Linked DNA regions of Homo sapiens: region 1 is linked to region 2. Evidence: fine-mapped expression QTL. A gene starts in region 2. The other region holds a variant in brackets. All regions are shown on one strand. Distances are from middle to middle.

Region 1 (5,377 bases), 34 kb after region 2:
AAGCAAATGAAACAGCCTTATTGCTGATATGGAGAAAGTTGTAGTGGTCTGGATAAAAAGACAGTCCAACCACGACATTCCCTTAAGCAAAATTCCCTAATCCAGAGCAAGGCCCTAACTCTCTTCAATTCTATGATGGCTGACAGAGGTGAAGAAGCTGCAGAAAAAAGTCTGAAGCTAACAGAGGCTGGTTCGTGAGATTTAGAGAAAGAAGTTGTCTCCATAATGTAAAAATGCAAGTGAAATAGCAAGTGCTAATGCAGAAGCTGTAGCAAGTTATCTAGAAGATCTAGCTAAGATTGTTGATGAAGGTGGCTACACTAAACAACAGATTTTCAGTGTAGGCAAAACAGCCATCCATTGGAAGAAGGTGCCATCTAGGACCTTCATAATTAAAGAGGAGAGGTCAGTGCCTGGCTTCAAAGCTTCAAAGGACAAGGTGACTCTTCTGTTAGGGGCTAATGCAGCTGGTGACTTTAAATCAAAGCCAGTGCTCATTTACCATTCTAAAAATCCTAGGGCCCTTAAGAATTATGCAAATCTACTCTCCTGGTGCTCTATACATGGAACAACAAAGCTTGGATAATAGCACATCTTTTTACAGCATGGTTTACTGAATAATTTAAGCCCTTTGTTGAGACCTACTGCTCAGAAAAAGAAATTATTATTTGAGACAGAATCTTGCTCTGTCACCAAGGCTGGAATGCAGTGGCACGATTTCAGCTCACTGCAACCTCTGCCTCTCAGGTTCAAGTGATTCTCCTGCCTCAGCCTCCCAAGTAGCTGGGATTATAGGCACATGCTACCACGCCCAGCTAATTGTTTGTATTTTTAGTAGAGATGGAGTTTCACCATGTTGGCCAGGCTGGTCTCAAACTCCCAAACTCAAGTGATCCGCCTGCCTCGGCCTCCCAAAGTGCTGGGATTACAGGTGTGAGCCACCGCGCCTGGCCAGGAGATTATTTTAAAAATATGACTGCTCTTTGACAATGCACCTAATCACCCAAAAGCTCTCATGGAGATGTGCAAGGAGATGAATGCTGTCATGCCTGCCAACACAGCATTCATTCTGAAGCCCATGGATTAAGGAGTCTTTTTGACTTTCAAGTCTTATTATTTAAGAAATACATTTTGTAAGGCTATAGCTGCCATAGATAATGATTCCTCTGATGGATCTGGGCAAAGTAAATTGAAAACCTTCTGGAAAGGATTCATCATTAAGAACATTCATGATTCATGGGAAGAGGTCAAAATATCAACATTAACAGGAGTTTGGAATAAGTTGATTCCAACCCTCATGGATAACCTTGAGGGGTTCAAGTCTTCAGTGGAGGAAGTCACTGCAGATGTGGAAGTATCAAGAAAACTACAATTAGAAGTGGAGCCTGAAGATGGGACTGAATTGCTGCAATCTGATGATCAAACTTGAATGGATGAGGAGTTGTTTCTTATTGATGAACAAAGAAAGTGGTTTCTTGATATGGAACCTACTCCTGGTGAAGACAGTGTGATCACTGTTGAAATGGCAACAAAGGATTTTGAATATTACATAAACTTAGTTGATAAAACAGTGGCATGGTTTGAGAGGCTTGACTCAAATTTTGAAAGAAGTTCTACTATGGGGTAAAATGCTATCAAACAGCATCACACACTACAGAGAAATCTTTCATGAAAGGAAGAGTCAATTGATGCAGCAAACTTCATTGTTGTCTTATTTTAAGAAATTGCCACAGCCCCCTAGCCTTCAGCATCCACTCCTCTGATCAATCAGCAGCCATCAACATCGAGGCAAGACCCTCCACCAGCAAAAAGATGACGACCCACTGAAGGCTTAGATGATCATTAGTATTTTTTAGTAATAAAGTATTTTTAAATTAAGGTGTATACATTTTTTAGACATAATGTTATTGAACCCTTAATAGACTGCAGTATAGTGTAAACATAACTTTTATACTCACTGGGAAACAAAAAAGTTGTGAAACTCACTTTATTATGATATTCGCTTTATTACAGTGGTCTGGAACCAAATCCACAATATCTTTGAGGTATGCCTGTATTAAAAATTTAATTTACTAGCATGAATTATACAATTCATCTTTATATTGTGCAATGTTAGTTTTAAATGCAAATATAAGATCTTTCAACTTTTATGCAGAATCCACCAAAATGACTCATTTCATATTTTGTAACTCCTTCATACCTGTGTATGTATGTTCTTATTAGAATAGTGGAAATACTGCACAAAACTAATTCATCTGTTTTTGTTTTACTTGATATATGAACATTTTAACAACACTCCCTGCCTTCAGCTTACTGAGTGAGGAAGGACTAAAAAGAAACGGAACTATGAGTTGCCCTATCCTTCCCTCTTCTTTCGTATCAATTTCAACATAGGTTGTTGTCTAATACAGGGAAGTAACACAAGAAAGAATATGATAGGGTTCCTTGACCATTTGTGTTTCTTAGAACACCACTGCCTTCTT[C/T]CTGCTTTCGGAGCACGATCTGGTTCAAATGTAAAATGTGGCCTCTGGGGCAACACACCTACCTTGTGCTCACTTTGAATCTCACTGAACTCAGGCACGTAGTGGGTCTACCTGCAATTCTGTGCTCATTGGGCATAGCAAACCCTATATGCAAGTGGGGGACAAAGAATGTGGCCACACATATCTTGCATTCTCCTCTGCTCACAAACAGGCTGCACTGTTAGACTTCACATAAAATACAAGTTCGAGGGTGAAAATATTAAGATATTCAAGATGGTGACAGCAGATCATTAAATGAAGGGCAGCCCTTCAAAGCAAGGGTCCTGTGTGATTGCACAGATCATATGCCCAAAAAGCCAGCCCTGGGTTTACGGTGAATACCATAGCCCTGGCAACTATGGTGAATACAAGCAGCTAGGTGTGGGCAAGAGATCTCAAGCTGGCAGCCTGAGGGCCAAATTCATCCTAAGATGTGTTTTTATGTTCTTGAATCTGAATGCCTTCAGGTCAGCTCTTCCAGTTCACCACAGTGTCTTCTGCCACCTTTTGTCTCACACTCAGCCTGACTCATCATTTCAGCTCCTGCCTGACCCCTGTAGGCATCTGAGTTTGAGACCTCTGAATGAAGGCAGATGACAACAGTAAGAATGGTGATGCAGGAAGGGCTGATGTGCTAGGATGGGGACTCTGGGCTGCACTTGGTGGTTGGAGATGGTGAGTCATTAAGGGTTTAAGAAGATGTGCATCTTGGAAAAGCAGCACAGGGAATACTGGGGAGGATAAGTTAGAAGTGGGCAGAGATGAGCCAGAGAGACAAACTGGCGCAATTGGAGTGATCCAGGCAAGAGTTGGTGAGATCTGAACTACGCCATAGAGGTGGAGGATCAGGGTCAAGATGTTACTCAGTGCTGAGTTGGAATGTGGGTGAAGGGAAAGGGGACATCAGGGATGACCTAGGTTTCTGGCTCAGTTGGTGGATGGTGTGCCATGGCTTTCTCTGGGACAGTAAATACAGGAGGAGCAGGCTGTGAACTGAAGCAAATGATTTCCATTTTCAGTCCTTTAAGTTTGAGGAGCCATGAGGACATCCAGAAAGAAAGTGCCTTGTAGGTAGTTGGATGGATTCACGGTGCTCAGAATCAGGACCTGGGCTGAGTTGTTGGCAGGAGCTGAGTCTGCAGGAAGAATGAGGAGGGAGGAGGCTGAAGGTGGAACTCCAGAGGGTGGCATTTGAAAGCAGGCAGAAGAGGAAGCACTAGCCAAAGAGCTGGAGAAGGCCAGACCAGGCAGGTGGGCGGGACCAGGAGAGAGTGGTGGTGGAAGCTGGGGGAGGAAGGAAATGCCTTCTGAGGTGGGTGGGTGGGTGTCAGCGGGGGTGGGGGGTGGCTACCTCAGTTTCCAAGCAAAAAACAGAGGCTTGACTAGAATAAGAGGACTGGAGAACACCCCAAGGGGCAGCAGTCGGGTTGAGGGGCTGAGAGGCATTGCTGACGAGGTTAGTTGGGGAGCAGACGCCCAAGGACCCTACTGGGGAAGCTTGCCAAGTAAGCACCAGAGCTGAGAGCTGGGGAGAGCCAGGAAGGCTCTTGCTTGCTGATTTATTTCTTTTAGAATGCTGAGATTTGAGGAGGTTTATATGCTGAGGGGAAGGGCCCCTTCTTTTCAGACCCTGGTAACGTTTGAAACAGGACCAGCTGTCTCCCAGGACTGTTGGTTAAACGACAGAATACATAGAAAGTGCGTAGTAAATGTCAGTGTCACCGGCATCCTTGGCAGCCCTGCTCTGGGAAAACCTAAGATGAGATGCAGACTGCACTCTCCTGTCTGCAGTTCCTTTGAACTTTCTCCCATCTTTCTGTCATCCCCCTTGAAGAGGAGTCAACATACAGTACCTTCTCTCCAAAGCTGATGGTTTGCTGCCAAGTGTGGGAGCATCTGAGCTGCCCCAGATTCTCAGAGCACAGTGATGCGTCTGGGTCTCATGGTTTACTGATCTCTTCCCTTGATCCTGTCTTCAAATGCTCTGAAATCATTTGCATTTGTCCTGCCTGGGCTCATCCGCAGGGCAGCAGTGTTTGCTCTCTCTGAGGGCATGTGAAAATGCAGCCTGAGGTCCTAGTACTAGGACTATGAAAATGCAAGCGGGGACTCCCCTCTTCCTGCAGAAATAAGGGTGCCCTAACCCAAGAAGCTGACTCCATCTGTATCCATTTCCTATGCCTCCAAATTGCCACAAGCTTAGTTGCTAAAAACAGAAATGTACTCTCTAACAGTTCTGGAGGCCAGAAATTCAAAATGAGTCTTGCAGGGCTAAAATCAAGGTATCAGAAGGGCTGGTTCTTTCCAGAGGCTTGAGGGGAGAATCCGTTTCTTGCCTTTTCCAGCTTCTCATGGCTGCCAGCATTCTTTGGCTTGTGGCCACATCACTTCAGTCTTTGCTTTTTTCATCACATTGCTTCCTCCTCTCTTGTGGTCAAATCTCCCTTTGCCTCTGTGTCATAAGGATACTTGTGACTGTATTTATTCAATAGGACCACCCAGATAGTCCAGTATAGTCTCCCCATCTCAGGATTTTTTTTATGTAATCACATTTGCAAAGTCCCCTTTGTTTCCTTTTGTCCCAATCACAGGCTCCAGGGATTTGGACCTGGATATCTCAGGGGTATATTACTCAGTCTACCACATCATCTTCAGAGGGGACTCTCCATGCACTCTGGTGAAGGAGGCAGGGCATGCATTACAATCATTTTACTTCTGAAGAGATTAAAACTTTTTGACATTACAGTTGCAACAGACTTTGGAGTTGGTGGCTGGGCCAAGAGCAGAGCCAGGCCTCTGGCCCCAGCCTGGGGCACATCTATAGCCCAGCATTAGGGCCCTGCCACTGCAGAGCC
Region 2 (5,377 bases):
ATTGGTCTGTTACTGCACAGCGGGCATAAGAACCTGTTGGTCCTATAACACTTTGACTGTGGTCAAAGACACAATCAAAGACAAGAAGTGAGGGAAGAGTAGCACCAGAAAGGTCCTCTCTCCTATTTGTTTCTTTTATCAGGAAGCAAAATATCTTGTCCGGGTGGTTACCCCTAGCTGTAAAGGAGACTGGGAAATTGAATGTCTGGCACAGGGGTAGCTGGGACTTGCTTAAATCAATTATGACTAGGTCAAAAAGCCAATGCTGTAAGAATAATGGAGTGGAAAATGGAAAGAGCTTGGGTCCTCGCTGACATCACTGAGTTGCTGAATTAAATTTTAAACAGCCAAGCTTGTCTTCTTAGAGTGGGATAATAAATGTATATTTGACTGAGACATTCCTAGAAGGATTTTCTATCACTTGCAGTCAAATGCACCCTAATGGATACAGAGATGGTATTTATAAAGGTAACTGAGCCTACACCCAGTTGGACAATTCGTAATTTCCATTCATTCAACCAATATTTATTTAGTGTCCACTTTGTTCTAGGCACTGGTTAAACTCTGAAGATGTAATGGTGAGCAAAACTAACAAGGTCCTTGCCCTCTTGAATTTATAGTCTGGTGGGGAAGACAGGCACCCCCAAAACAACCCACAAAGGAGGAATATAAATATCCATCTCTCCTGCTTCTATGAAAAAGAGGTACATGGTATTATGGGAGCATTTAATAGAGAAATTATGCTGGTGGTGGAGTCAAGGAAGGCTGCCCTGAGAAGTGAGCAGCCATCTGAAATATGAATATGCACATTCAGGATTATGTCTTTGCCCAGAATGCTCTCTTTCTCTCCCCTGCCATGGCCCCCCCTCCCATCATGTTGCCTTATCCACTGTTTTGTTGAAACCTCCCATCATCCCAGTCATCTTCAGTATCATGCTTTCATGAAATCCACACTGACCTTTCCACTAGAAGTGACCTATTCCTTATTTAAACCCCATGAGATATGTTCTTACTCTGCCTCACAATTTCAGTGCTTGTTCTGCTTACCTCCTGACTCCCACGCCCACTTTGTAAGATGTGGACTATCTCATCTTCCCATTAAATGTCTAGCAACCTAGCTTGTTGTCTTGCACTTAATCAACATTCAATGCTTACTGTAATTGATTTTTTTTTTTTTTTTGAGACCAAGTATTGCTCTGTAGCCCAGGCTATAGTGCAGTGGCGGATCTCGGCTCACTGTAACCTCTGCCTCCAGGGTTCAAGCGATTCTTCTGCCTCAGCCTCTAGAGTAGCTGGGATTACAGGTGCATGCCACCAGGCTAGGCTAATTTTTGTATTTTCAGTAGAGATTACAGGGGTGAGCCACCACACTCCGCCCCTTAACTGAATTTTAAAACTACACTTTATCGGTGGGGCACAGTGGCTCACCCCTGTAATCCCAGTGCTTTGGGAGGGCAAGGCGGATGGATGGCTTGAGGCCAGGAGGTCGAGACCAGCCTGGCAACACGGCGAAACCCCAACTCTAGTAAAAATACAAAAAATTAAACGGGCATGGTGGCGTGCGCCTGTAATCCCAGGTACTCTGAAGGTCGAGGCACGAGAATCACTTGAACCCAGGAGGCGGAGGTTGCAGTGAGCCAAGATCATCCCGCCACTGCACTCCAGCCTGGGTGGCAGAGCAAGACTCTGTCTCAAACAAACAATCAAATACACCACATTTTATCAATGTTTACCCCCATATAGTTTCAGAAAAGATTTGATAGCTTACACAGAGGAGGGTGTGTGCATGATGTCCCCACAAACCTAGACACCCAGAGCATTGAATTTTTGTCCATAAACTGAATTTTTTGAAGATTAAAATATACTAATAAGGGTTATTATTATACTTATGTCAACTATTACTTATATGCGCTAGTTTCCTTAGTTTATTACAACCCTTATTCCTCAGCATAAGAAGCAAGGTGTTTGAATTTCCCAAGGGTGCATAATATCCTTTGAAGGGGCCTGGCTCTGTTCAATATTCCGAGTGACAGTTGTCCAGGATGGCACAGTGCCCTTCCTTAAATTCACATATTGGTAATCTTCACTGTAGGTTTATAAAAGGTTGTCCTCAGTAATTGAGGGACATAGTAACATAATTGCACACTATTGAAAGTGGACTCCCTCTTAGAGATAATCTGGTAACAGAGACCCGGAGATTTGTCCCAAACCAGGAAGACAGGAAGAGCTGTTCCCTTTGGTAATCATTTATCAGGCAGTAGCTTTCCCCATGGGGACTCGCGGAGAGTGTCGGAGATGTACAGTCATTCCCCTAACTTTCAACGTTTACACAACTCAGGACACACTCTAGGAAGGAATTCAATGATTTTCCTCTGGGTGGAGGTATTACTAGGTTCTAAAGCCGTGGCAGGCAAGCAGCTACCAACGGCGCTAAGTTCAAAGCTGCCCGAGAACTCGCCCAGAGTTAAGTCAGGGAAAAGAAACGCCTGGGAACAAACGCGCCTTCTCCCCTGCCCCAGGTGTGCTAAAGGACGATGCCGCAGATCCCTAACTAGCTCAGCCTTGGAGCGAGCGCTGGGTGCCTGCGATGGAAAGTCGCTCTTCTCGCCAAGAATGGTCGAACCCCAAAACTTCAGGGACGCCGCTCGGAGTAACTTCTCTTCACTCACTTGCGATCAGATGAGAAGAAAGTAAAGCCCTTCCAACGTCACCCTCAGCCGGCGCGCGGCAGCTGAGTCCCAGCGGGGACGGGGTCCGCCGGGTACCCCTCCGCCCGAGCCCTGTGCGCTTCCAGGTCCTCCTCCTCCGCGCGGTCACTGGCTGCATCTCCGCCGCCCCGGCACAATAGAGGCTCCGCCCTCCTTCCGCGCGAGCTCTCCGCGGCTCCCTAGCCCAGCAGCCCTCGCCCAGCAGCCCGCGCCGCCACCGCCTCTTCCCTCCCCGTGTCCGGTCCCCGTGCGTCCCGAGGCTCCCCGCCGCCCGTCCCGGCGCGCACCGCGGGCGTCTGTCCGAACGCCTTCCAGCCACCTGAGCCCTCCTGCGGGCGACTCGCTCAGCTAGCCCGTGCCCGCCTCCACCTTCTCCGTCATCCCCTCTTCCTTGCGTCCGGCTCTCCACTGGGGCTGCACAGTCGAGGGCTGCTCGCGTCGGGAAGGAGATGCCCAGAGTCTCTGGGGCGCACCCTCCCGTCCCGCTCAGCCGCACCCAGCTTTAGAAGGTGCTCTCAGCAGCCACTTTCGGGCTCTAGCGAGGACACCCTCTCGCAGAAGTCCTTGCCGAGACCCCCCGCCCCAGCCATTCTCTGAAGGGGCTGAGGACACTCTTATCGCGCCCCTCATGGCCAAGCCTCGGCTGCTAGTTCTCTACTTCGCTCTGATTGTGGTTCCGGCCTGGGTGTCCAGCATTGTCCTCACAGGGACAAGCGAGCCCCCAGATGCGCAGACAGTGGCGCCTGCGGAGGACGAGACTCTGCAAAACGAGGCGGACAACCAGGAGAACGTTTTATCTCAGGTAGGATGCAGAGTGCCACGACCGCCCTTCTTGCCCTGGATGGTGGTGAGAGCCAGAAGCTGGTCCTTGCTGAAGTGTTTGAGGGCAGCTGTTTTTCCTTCCATTACCAATGGAAAGGGCTTTTGATTTTTCATGTATCGGAATATTTTCTTAATGGAAGGATATAGGTTCTCCTCGCAAAATCATAGGGTGCTTAAAGGTCATCAAATCAGGAGAAAGGAGAGGTGAAGGAAGGGAAGATGCCGCTCGACTTCTTGAGAAGAAAGAAAACAAAGTTGTTTTTGGTTTCAGGGTTGTAAAAAGTATCTCTTGTCTATGTGGCTGTCTGTCAGAATTGGAATGTGAAAACAGCCGGATATGTTGACCAGGAGGCAGATGGCATATCCCATCGGGAGATACTTTATGGCAGAGGGTGGGACACCAGGCGGGAGCATGGGGTGAAGTCAGAACAGAAGCATGTGTGATGAATGTGAGGTGACCCCCAAACAGAGAGACTGAGAACATGACGGAGTGTACTGGGAGGGGAGAGTGGGAATGCAGATGCAGGCAGCTAGGGCAGACTGTCAGTGGGGGCCCGAGTAACCCATGATAGTGATGGGCTTCGTAAAGTGTCCGTTTACCAAGTACTTAAACTTGTTTTTTCTGACTCAATCTTCAAAACACCCTAATACCCATTTATAGATAAAGACCATAAGAGATACATGGGTAGGCCGGGCGCGGTGGCTCACGCCTGTAATCCCAGCACTTTGGGAGGCCGAGGCGGGCAGATCACGAGGTCAGGAGTTCAAGAGCAGCCTGGCCAATATGATGAAACCCCATCTCTACTAAAAATACCAAAATTAGCCAGGCGTGGTGGCAGGCACCTGTAGTCCCAGCTACTCAGGAGGCTGAGGCAGGAGAATCGCTTGAACCCGGGAGGTGGAGGTTGCAGTAAGCGGAGATCGCGCCACTGCACTCCATCCTGAGTGACAGAGTGAGACTCCGTCTCAAAAAAAAAAAAAAAAAAAAAAAAGAAGAGATACATGGGTAGAGCCAGGGCGTCTGACAGTCTTCAGCCCAGATCTCATGTCTGTAAGGGGTAGTTCTCTCTGGAGTGTTTATTTTGTGCTCTCCAGAGCCGGCATGATGACGTGTGGTGGGTGTCACCAGAATCCTCAGAATGGGGGATGTCTGAAAAAGGATCCTCCAGGGCTGCCTGTACCTTCACCTCCACCAAGCCCTAGGACTGGGCCTTGTCTCCTTCCTGTAGAGAGAATAATCAGCTGCACTTTGGGATTTATCAAACACTAGCCTCCTCACTCTTCCTTTAATAATGATGCTAATGTATGCCCTCTGCCCCCCCATTACCTCCCACTGACCCCTAAATCGAAAAGACATAAAAATCTCTCACACTGGGGCTCTGGAACACTATCAACAAAAACTTTCCTGAAACCCGAGCCTCCTGTAAGGAAGGAATCCACCCAGGGTTCTCAGAGCAGGGTTATGTAGGAATCCAGGCAGAGTTTCAGAGAGCAGACAGCCACAATTTACTATCAGCCCGTAAAGAACAGCCGCTTAAGTCACCCTTAACTACACCACCTTCTTCCACTGATCCATTCTGTGTTTGACAACAGCCCTAAAGCAAATATTAGTATTAGAAGAAACCCAATCTTTGCAAGGAAAACATTACAAGTCTTCTTCCCCCAGACAGCATCCCAAGGAACATTTCTACTCAAACAAGCTCAATGCTTGCCCACTGAAATCATTAATCAAATGAAGGGAACCCTTCTGCCTGCCTAGGAAGGGAGCCCTGGCTTTGGGGATGTAGGGCCTTTTGGAGAGGATTGGGAGAGAAGAGCCTTTTCCCAGCAAGCGCCCAGAGTTGGGG

Evidence for each region.
Region 1: its variant is fine-mapped to the expression of OLFML2B in whole blood (TOPMed, PIP above 0.99).

What each region holds. Positions count from the first base shown.
Region 1 is chr1:161,987,029-161,992,405 of GRCh38, reverse strand. The region is part of intron 6 of OLFML2B (olfactomedin like 2B); the gene reads left to right. Among named protein-coding and RNA genes, the nearest start is that of OLFML2B, 34 kb to the left of the region's middle. The variant C/T (reference allele first, on the strand shown) is at 2,484.
Region 2 is chr1:162,021,390-162,026,766 of GRCh38, reverse strand. OLFML2B (olfactomedin like 2B) reads left to right here and starts at 2,898. Exons shown (of 8, transcript NM_015441.3): 1 at 2,898-3,510. The coding sequence starts at 3,337. RefSeq lists silencers at 2,274-2,568, 2,637-2,786.